2 separate regions of the Homo sapiens genome follow, and region 1 is linked to region 2. The links come from fine-mapping of genetic effects on gene expression. A gene starts in region 2. The other region holds a variant in brackets. All regions are shown on one strand. Distances are from middle to middle.

Region 1 (5,308 bases), 80 kb before region 2:
ACCGTAAGACCAACGTCCAGGGTGCAAGAATGTGATGTCTGGTGAGAGTGCAGCTGGAAAAATCCTTAGGACCTAGAATGACACATGGAAGGCAACATCTTCACCATTTTTTGGTAAGCCCTGCGCATTCTAGTTTTGATAATGCTTTTTGGTTACACAGCATTCTTTCTATATCCAGAGAGGTTTTATTTGCTAATTGAATGGCAATAACTATGGTGGCTTCACACCCACCATAGTTGTGTGTGAAGGGTCATATTTGCTATTTTACTTCTGAAAGCCTACCTTGTATTACTTACTGTTCTAGCAAGAGACAGTAGTGGTGAAGATATACCTGGCTACAAAACAACCTGAACAGGCCATCCTGAGTGAAAGAGCTGCTTGATGAAGGTAGACATCCATTTACCTAGCTAGAACCAGCTGGGTCATCTCTGAAGTTTAACAGTGGAAAATGTCATAAGAAGAGGCCCAGCCCTCAGATTCTGAAATCAGCCTCCATGCCACGTTCTGAGAGGTTAGCTAGACTTGGTAAAAGGCTTATGCAAATACTAAGAAATGTACTCAGGATAACAGAGAATTTCTCTATTCCAAGCCCTGGGTCTCTAAGAAGGAAGCCTGTGATTCCTTAAGAAAAATGATACATGCCAATACTTCTCCCATCAAGAAAGAAGACACAACAGCCTAAGCCTAAGGACACACACAAAAAAGAAGGAAGCAGGATTAACAGTTAAAAATCTGGGAAGGGTACATGCTGTTTAAATGGAACCATGGAGAGAGAAAGTTTTCAGATTCAAATTTGGCAAGACCAAGAAAATGTACTTACTAAATAACAGGAAAGTACAGATCACTTTAATGATTCATATGCTCTGCCTCCAAATAACAGCTCAACAACAATGCTAACTGAAGCTACTGCCTCTGACTACAATGCATGATCGTACTGAACATTTAATAGATGCTGTTTCAGGCTACTGAGGAAAGACAGAACAGTGTCTATGAAATGGGGCTCCTGTCCTGGAGGAGCTTACAATCTGCCAAGGACCTCGAGGCCATATCCACAAATTTAAACAAACAGTGTGAGGGTGCAAATGCTGAGTGACAGCAGAACTTGTGAAGACGGTAAGACTCAGATAAACAGAAATAAGATGACATAATACAAGTGGAAACACTCAGCAAAGGAGGAAAAATAATACTTTTACACAACTGGTTGTGAATGAAATTTTTTTTTTTTTTTTTTTCTGAGATAGAGTCTCTGTCACCCAGGGTGGAATGCAGTGGCACAATCTGCAACCTCTGCCTTCCAGGTTCAAGCCATTCCCCTGCCTCCACCTCCCAAGTAGCTGGGATTACAGGCACATGCCATCAGGGCCAGCTAATTTTTGTATTTTTAGTAGAGACAGGGTTTCACCATGTTGGCCAGGCTGGTCTCAAACTCCTGACATCAAGTGATCCACCCACCTCGGCCTCCCAAAGCGCTGGGATTACAGGCATGACCCACCACGCCCAGCCCGAGTGAGTAAAGTATTAATGTCTTCCTCCCAATAAGTGTATAAGGAGGAGGGATTGGATAGATGAGGACATAAGTACAAGGATGTTTGCACTCATAAGGATGCTTACTGTTGGTGGAATTCAAAGTTTGAATTCAATGTAGGGAAAGGGTAGTATGAACACAAAATTTATGGTCCAAACAAGAAGCATTTCTGAAAGTAAAAGGCAGGCTAAAACTAAGTATTAATAACAGGTGGTAATTATCCAAAACAGGCACAGACTGGCACACTGCAGGGTGACCAGTACACAAGCAACAGGGAGCCACTGAATAAGTATTTCTGGATTCAGGTGATGGCAATGAGAATGGAATGATGGGGTAAATGGAGGACTTAGTACGTGGCTAGATATGGTAGGGAAATGACAAATCTAGGTGAATATTCCTTCACAGAAAACATGAAATATGGAGGGGAAGTTTTCAGGAACTTGAGTTTAAAGACGGGACAATCAAGTGGAAGTGTCCAGAGGAAAGGGAGACATGGAACTAGAACTGAGGACAGACATTGGAAATAATTTAAAAAGATTGATTAGCAGGCGGTATAAGAGCAGACAAGTAACAGCCAAAGAGATAATCCCATTATCAATTTCTCATTTGAAGTTTGATCAATTTTCATACTCTTGTTCAATTCCTTTCACTCACAATGGTTGAGCCCTCCCAATTCTCCACTTGCCCTGCCAAATCTCAAAGAGCTTATCACGCCATTCAATTAGCAAATAAAACCTCTCTGGCATTTCTTACATTTGCAAAGAGCTTTTAGG[A/G]TATATTTGCTAATAAAATCTCCCATTTTAAGTCTTATGTTTAGCACTAAACTAGACAAGATAAAAATTGGGAATATAATACCCCTCCCCACAAGTAATCTTTTTATTTTTGGCTAATGGAGTGATTCAAATATTATTAAATGATTTGATTACCTTTTCAGAGAAACTTAGTTGTTGCTTGCAACTACAGCATCCAGGAAAGGAGGAAAAATAATACTTATATAAAACTGGTTGCGAATATATGCAAGGGAAAAAAGTATTAATGTTTTCTTCCCAATACATTTATAAGGAGAAATCTGGAGTAGATGAAGATACAAGTACAAGGATGTTTACATTCAGGCAAGCTAGGATCACAGAGAACCCTAGGATCCCAACCTTGGCCAGCAAAGCACACTGCTTCTCCCCTAGAGTAGTCCTAGAAAGGCTGGTACAAAAACCAGTGTACTGATTAGGCTGAGCAGTGAACTGCATCTTCCACAGGTGATGAGGGGGGAAAAAATGGAATAAATGGCAATTTCCTGCTATTCCACACAGGGAATGTTCAGCTTCTGGTTCATGAGAAAATATAAGTACTATATACGCCTCACAGACAGGTTCAAAAAAGCATTTGTTAGCAGTGATTTGCCAAGTTTCATACTCTGTTGAGAATATTAAGAGCCCATATCCAAAGTTGGAAGGCTAAAGCCTGGTTAATGGGTTTAGGAAGGTACTATTCTCCACAGGGGAGGGCTTCAGAAGAGTAATTGTCCCTGTTCTCATGCCATTAGCATTACGGCATAGACTGATTTCCACTGCAGTTGAACAAATAATAGAAACTGTTCAAGTAGCCTAACACAGAAAACTCACTTTAAGATTTCACATTAATACAACAAGAGAACAGATAGAATTAAGTGTATTTTGTGCTCAAAAGATATTGGTTTACTCTATACTCCCTATTTCCCTCACTGCCTTGATATTAAAAGAAAACATACAATTGGGTTGTGCACTCACTACTTTAAACTGCTTGCTTTAAGTCTGCATTAGAGAAATGCAAAGTCAGGCACTTGAGAGAACAGGTTCAGACAAATGAGACTTTAAAGACGCCAAGCAGAATGCTTGTCCTCCAGCCCTTTCCTCTGCCTCTAGATGCTAATGCACACTGCCTTGGTGTAGAAAGGACTGAAATGTCTCAAGTGTAGAAAGGGTTATGACTTTTTATAACCAAGTGAGATTTTCTGAACCTCTCAGCAACACTAGCTGGGTTTTATACACATCTGAGTCATGGGAAGAATCAATTTTATGACTAAGAGATTTCCTATGACTGTCAGTGGCTACTTTTGCTTCACACACACACACACACACACACACACACACACACACGCAAAACAGACAAACAAAAAAACTAGTTGTTAGTATCAGAGCAACCTTCTTAGCTGAAGGACTGTTCACACCAAGCCTTTATATCCCCCAGGGGTACTAAGAACCAGCCAAGGAAGGCAAATTTCAGAAGCTTTCCCGACAAACACAATTCAGGGATAAGGGGTTCAATGTGCAAAGTCTTTTATTTAAAATTTTAGAAGTTAAGACTTACGACCACCTCAGTATATGCCATTCCTAATAGAAGGAGGTATGACGGTTTCAAACTCGTGCAGAGCTGCATTTTCATTTACAAGTCTCTGTAGGCACTTTAGAAGTGAAGCTTGGCTTCAAAATACAAACACTGGGGGCTTTGGCTCAACCTTTTAATATAAAAAAATTCACTGATGTACAAAAATTTGAAAGTGTGACAATGACAATTATGAAATCCTGTGACTGAAAGTCCCCTCGAGTGCACTCTGTGGTGCACATGCGCCCGCCCACACAAACTCTGGCATGGAAACATAAACTAATGCAAACCAGTGCTACCCAGAAGCACCAACACGTGTGTTCTCCATTCCACCAATCACAGACCAGTATCTACTCCAAACATCCAGTAACGAAAACTATGGCATCTTCCCAGGAACAGCAAGGCAGGCTTCTTACTCACGATGAACCAGCACGAATAAACCCAGCAAAAAGAGAACTGCATACTAGAAAATAAACACAGAACCACAAGTCAGAGAAGCGTTGAAAAGTTCAGAGGTTCTAAGAGTTAATTAACAAATTGGTCTTTGTGAATATATCGCTAAACTACCCAATTATTCTTTCATCTTTTAACTATAATCCATTTAAAAGTTTCCAATACTAAGCAAAATATCACATTTCTTTAAATAATTTTCTTTTTTTTTTTTTTTTGAGACAGTCTCACTTTGTCACCCAGGCTGGAGTGCAGCAGCAACCTCCACCTATCATATTCAAGCAATTCTCGTGCCTCAGCCTCCCCAGTAGCTGGGATTACAGGTGTGTACCACCATTCCTGGCTAATTTTTTTGTATTTTTAGTAAAGACAGGGTTTTGTCATATTGACCAGGCTGTTCTCGAACTCCTGACCTCAGGTGATCTGCCTGCCTCAGCCTCCCAAAGTGCTGGGATTACAGGCGTGAGCCACTGCGCCCAGGCTAATAATTTTTTTTTTTTTTTAATAGAGACGGGGTTTCGCTATGTTGCCCAGGCTGGTCTTGAACTCCTGGGCTCAAGCGATCCACTCACCTCGGCCTCCCAGAGTGCTGGGATTACAGGCTTGAGCCACTGTGCCTGGCCCAAAAGATTACATTTTTTAATAAAACAAATAATACAGACTCTTACCTTAAATTTAGGATAGTCATTCATGAGGATCGTCACAATTCCAATATAAGGAACAAATCTAAAACAAACAAAAAACTGATTATCACAGAATTTCCGATGTAAAGCAGCTGTTGTCACTCACTGAATATTATCAATATCTTCTATAGAATACTAATTTTCAATTCACAAAGTCCATTTCTATATACTGCCCTATTTGATCCTTGCAAAAGCCCAAGTGATAGGAAAGTTAGGAATATCACCATTTTAGAGATGAGGAAACAGATGATCATGCCCAAGGTACATGGTTTCTGTGTGGCAGAACCAGCAC
Region 2 (5,376 bases):
GGTAATATAAATGGACTAATATCTGGGATATGGTGACAAATCTTCCAAAGAGCACAATATTTTTTGCAAACAAGAAATTAGGGCCTGAGATAATTAGGAGAAATGTAAGTTCCCAATGAAACTCTGGAGATATTGGCAGGTATGCTGGGTTTCTTAAGTGGTACACAGGTTTGGAGTCAATTGTACTTAAATTTTAAAGGACAGTGACCCCAGCTGCCCTAAGGATGATTGTAGAGGGTAATCCAGGCAGCTGATCCATGGAAGCATGCATGCCTCCCTACCTCAAAATATTTCAATCTTTATGCACTCTTTAAATCTTGTAGGAAGAGGCGGACTTCTCTGACTTTTTGCTCACCCCTTTCCCCCTTCCCATCTACTTTTCCTTTTCTGGTTTCTTGCACCATCAATTATCCTACATCTATCTGCCATTCTCCCCTCTCAGCTCCTTTAGTTAAGGTCTCCCCACTCAAGTTAGGAAAAAAAAAAAAAAAATCACCGGCCAGGCATGGTGGCTCATGCCTGTAATTCCAACACTTTGGGAGGCTAAGGCAGGTGGATCACCTTAGGTCAGGAGTTCGAGACCAGCCTGGCCAACATGGCGAACCCCCATCTCTACTAAAAATACAAAAATTAGGGCCGGGTGCGGTGGCTCATGCATGTAATCCCAGCACTTTCGGAGGCCGAGGCGGGTGGATGACCTGAGTTCAGGAGTTTGAGACCAGCCTGACCAACATGTTGAAACCCCATTTCCACTAAAAATACAAAATTAGTCAGGCATGGTGGCGCATGCCTGTAATCCCAGCTACTCGGGAGGCTGAGGCAGGAGAATCGGTTGAACCCAGGAGGCAGAGGTTGCAGTGAGCCGAGATTGTGCCATTGCACTGCAGCCTGGGCAACAAGAGCGAAACTCTCTCTCAAAAAAAAAAAAAAAAAAAAAAAAAAAAAAAGCCAGGCATGGTGGCGTGCGCCTGTAATTCCAGCTACTTTGAAGGCTGAGGCTGGATTATCACTGGAACTCTGGAGGTAGAGGTTGCAGTGAGCCGAGACCACGCAATTGCACTACAGCCTGGGCTGCGAGACCGAAACTCCGTCTCCAAAGACAAAAAAAAAAAACAAAAAACAATCAACTTTTCCCTTTACTCTTTTGCAGAGAGGGAGGGTCTCGCTATGTTGCCCAGGCTGAACTCAAACTTCTCGGCTTAAGGGATGCTTTTGCCTCAGCTTCCACAGTAGGACCCAACTTTCTCCTTTACTCTTGGTACTTCTTGAGCTCCAGGCCTACTTTTCTCTCTCTCACTGCCAAACATTTGAAATCATCACCCTTTATTAACTCCATTGCTTCATTGGCTAACATACTCTTTAGACAAGCTCTTCAACTCAGTTCTGTGCCTGGTGCACAGCAGGCTCCGGCTGCATGTTAGTTCCAGCCATCTTGCACATTTGCATCTCCTTCCTGGAGAAGGAATTTCTCCATGGTTAGCAGTGTGTGCTCACTCCTAGTCACCAGGGCCTCATCTCCGTGTTCCCACACCCTGACCTTGCTGCCGCCCTAATGCTGCGGACCCAGTTTCCAGGTACGCCGGGTTCTTGGAAGGTCCTGCCGGTCACCCTCCCAGCCTTCTGCCAGACTCACTGAGTTCTCACCCTGCACAGTCATCGTTTCCCCAGTAACCCTGAGAGATCTCCCAGTCTACCTCTTCGAGGCACCCGTTGCCAGTCCTCCATCTCTGTTTGCCGCGCGTCCCTCGGTTACCCCAGAGGCAACACGTCAGGCTGCCCCGCACCTCCAAGCCTGCGCGAATGTCCTTGTAGCCAGCTATGACCAAACATTTAGGGCGCACCTGAGCGCCAGGCCCACGCCACCCCTGCTTGCTTTCACTTAACAGCCTCGACTAGGCCCCCTATGCGCCAGGTCTCAGTGAAGAGGACGCAGTCCCGGGTCCTGGGCGCTCTTTGCCGGGCGAGACAGCTGCGTAGGCAGATCCTGTTCCTCTAGTGGGCGGCCTCGGCCCCTGCCCCTGCCCCGAGGCGCGTCAGAGGACAAGAGGCCCAGGTCGCTGGCAGCGGCTGCCTGCCCGACCGCACAGGGTGCCTAGCACGGGTGGCGGGGACTGGAGCCGGGCGGGGGCCGGCCGGGGTCGGGGGTCCAGCCCTGAGCGGCGCCGTCCCCGCCCCGCCCCGTCCCGTCGCGTCCCGCCCCGCCCTACCCGCCGCCGCCGTCGTCGCCGTCGCCGGGCCTGCGCCGCGCAGCCCGCCTCGGGCGGGAGGCGGGAGGCGGGAGGCCGGGCCCAGGCCGGGGCAGCCCCTCCACCGCACCGTCCTGGGCCGGTGCCCAGGTCCGAGTCGCCTTCCGCCTGCCCCCCCCCCCCCCCAATCCCCCGCCGCGGCAGCCCCAGCCAGGTCCCGCCGCCAGGCCGGCTCCCGCCCCCGCTCCGCCCCCGGAGCCGCAGCCCCGCCCGCCATCGCCGTCGCCATGTTGTGGCTCCCGCAGCCGGCGCTGGGGACGCGCGCGGCCGAGACTCTGGCCTGCAGTCGCCGCCGCCGCCGCCAGGTAAGCGCCCCCCGCGGGCCGGGCCGAGCGGGGCCTGCGGGCCGGGGCAGCCCCAGCCTGGGCCCGGGAGGATCGCAGCCGGGACCGAGTCCGAGCCCGAGCCGGGGCCCGGCCCTGCAGCCTGGCGGACCCTGGCCGCCGCCAGAGGCGGCAGCCACTTCCCCCGACCGCCGCCTGGCGGGCCCGGGCCGCCACCCCACCCCGCCCCCGGCCGTCGGGCGCCGGCCCCTTCCGCCGCTGCGACCGCCGCTGCGACCGCCGCTCCTTGGCAGGCCGGGCACGCTGCTGTCCTCCGCGCTGGGCGGGACGTGCGGCCGCCCTCGGCGATAGCCGGCGGCCCCCAGCCCGGGCACGGATAACGGTGCCACTTTCTCCCTCTGGGACGGCCTGTCAGCCCGACCGTCCCCGCCGCCCGAAGAGCTGTCGCCGTCACAGGGCAGACACTTCGGGGAACGACCCTCTTTGGCGCTCCTCAGTACTCCCCTCCCCTGAGCCCAAGTTCTGACCCTGAGGAAGGTTTCTCCCGGAGCAGACAGGTATTCCTAGAGCTCCAGAGTTGGGGTCCTCAGGGGTGACCAGGCCTGTTGATCAGGGTGAAAATTGTCTCTCTGCAAGGGCTCTTCCTGCCAACGAGGGGGTTGGCGGGAGGCTCAGTGTGACCTGAGGGAGGACAGGAGAGCGTCTGCTGGACAGATGGCCTCCTGGCCTTGGATCAGCGTTTGTGAGGGGGAGGGGTCCGTATGACCTTAGGTATGCCTGCTCCTGAGTACTGCAGGATTATTGAAGCTGTTTAGGGATTTTAAACCATTTTTTGAGTAGGCCAAAGGTGGCATTAAAGGTCCTGGATTGGAATAAGTCCACAGGCCCACCCAGGGAAGCATGTTTGGCATCCAGGACTAGTCTAGAATAGGACTGGCAGTAGAAGAATGGGACTTGGGGAGTAAGACGGTATTTGGCTTATGGTTTGCCCACTTGAGTTCAGGCCTGTGCTCATGGAGGGCCTGTAGGGTGCTTCTGTCGCGGGTGCAGTGTGGTGCACAGTGTGGCAGAGTGCGGAGGATGTGGACAGACAGATTCCTGGCCTGGTGGATGCTTGGTGGTATTTTAGTAGTCTGTTTCCTCAACCTCACTGTTACGTTACACAGTGAAAGGGGCAGAAGTGTGGTGCTAGTGCGTCCATTTTGATCATTTTCCAATTTTTCAACTAGTTGTGGCTTTGATTCATTAAATAAATTTTTACTGAGCACTTACTCTGTGCCAGGCACTGAGCTAGGTGTTGGGAGTACATTGGTAAGCCAGAAAGATACCATGTTTTAGTTCTTAGCCATTGGGAAAGTCTAATAATTAATAGTCGTGGCCGGGCGCGGTGGCTCGCGCCTGTAATCCCAGCACTTTGGGAGGCCGAGGCGGGTGGATCGCCTGAGATCAGGAGTTCGAGACCAGCCTGACCAACATGGTGAAACCCCGTCTCCACTAAAAAAATACAAAATTAGCCGGGTGTGGTGGTGCATGCCTGTAATCCCAGCTACTTGGGAGGCTGAGGCACGATAATTGCTTGAACCCGGGAGGCGGAGGTTGCAGTGACCTGAGATCGTGCCGTTGCACTCTAGCTTGGGCTACAGAGTGAGACTCCATCTCAAAATAAATAAATAGTCGTGGAAATTTATTCAACAACAAATATTTGTCAACAAATACGTGTTAGGCATTGTTCTAGATGCAGTGAACAAAGAAAGCAAAAATGATTGCCCTTGTGGTGCTTTCCTGGGAGTGGGGGAGAAGACAATAAATAAAATATATAACAAAAATATAGTCTGTTAAAAAGTGTGAAATGCTAAGGAGAAGAAGGAAGCAGGGAAGGAGAATCTGAGGTATCAGGGGTGGTAGTTGAATTTATATTATACGGTGGCCTGGGAAGGCTTCCTAAGAAGGTGTCTTTCGAGTAAAACTTGGAAGTGGTAAACTAATAATTCAAACTATAGTGAATATAAGAAGAGAAAGCTGAAGAGAGGGGTAAGAGACCGATTTGAGTTGGGGGCTCAGGGAAGCCTTCCCTGGGGAAGTGATGTTTAGGCCAAGATCTGAAGGAGGGTTAAGAGTTAACCATGTGTGGAGCTGACTGTAGCAAGGAGGAAGTGAAAGAGGCCTGTGGGGCTGGAGGGGGAAAGGGAGAGGGGAGATTAGTCTGGAGACTAGGGCCAAATTAGAGCAATGGGGCCTTGGGGGCAGAATGCCTCCCTCCTTAGTTTGGTTTGTATCTCCAGTGTAATTAGGAACCTTTGAAGGGTTTAAGGGAATGACATGATATTTACATTTTAAAAGGTGTCTAGCCCCTGTGCAGGGAATGGACTTTTGAGATAAGCAGGTAAGGCAAGGCTTTCTGGGTTGAGTGGCTTAACTACCTGATCTGTTTGGAAAAGCCTCAAGCAGTCTGGGGGAGATCCTTTGCCTCTGTGAGTCTGCTTCATCCAGCTTTTAGGAAGGGAAGGCAAAAATGAATTAACATTTATGGAGTACCTGCCAGGTGGGAGAACCAATTTTAAAGACTTCTGCATACATTATTGTATTTAACTTAGTCCTCTCTACACCCTAAGAAAAAGAGGTTATCATACCCATTTTACAAAGAAATAAATGCAGAGGGGATAGATGACTTATTCAAAGCCACATTTGTAACATAGCCTGGATTCAAAGCACGTCTGCCTGAATTCAGAGCCCACTGGCTCTGGAGCCAGACCACTGAAGTTTGCATTTTGCTCCTGTCACTTGCTAACCAATGATCTTGAGTTATTTAGCCTCTCTTGTGCCTCAGTTTGCTCACATTTTAAGTG

Alleles and levels. Alleles are on the strand shown, and positions count from the first base shown. SD is a standard deviation of normalised expression in the study named.
For the expression in stomach of the gene that starts at base 2,479 in region 2, allele A in region 1 goes with a lower level than allele G (large effect, 1.1 SD a copy in GTEx).

The links. PIP is the estimated chance that this variant, and not a neighbour inherited with it, causes the effect.
Region 1: its variant is the best candidate, but not a certain one, in a credible set for the expression of ZNF592 in stomach (GTEx, PIP 0.66).

The regions. Positions count from the first base shown.
Region 1 is chr15:84,665,724-84,671,031 of GRCh38, forward strand. It overlaps SEC11A (SEC11 homolog A, signal peptidase complex subunit), which reads right to left. Exons shown (of 6, transcript NM_014300.4): 5 at 5,002-5,059; 6 at 3,821-4,346. The coding sequence ends at 4,296. Among named protein-coding and RNA genes, the nearest start is that of NMB, 10 kb to the left of the region's middle. The variant A/G (reference allele first, on the strand shown) is at 2,299.
Region 2 is chr15:84,746,114-84,751,489 of GRCh38, forward strand. It overlaps ZNF592 (zinc finger protein 592), which reads left to right and starts at 2,479. Exons shown (of 11, transcript NM_014630.3): 1 at 2,479-2,551. RefSeq lists enhancers at 1,631-1,930, 2,003-2,842, 3,371-3,450 and silencers at 2,001-2,420, 2,481-2,970.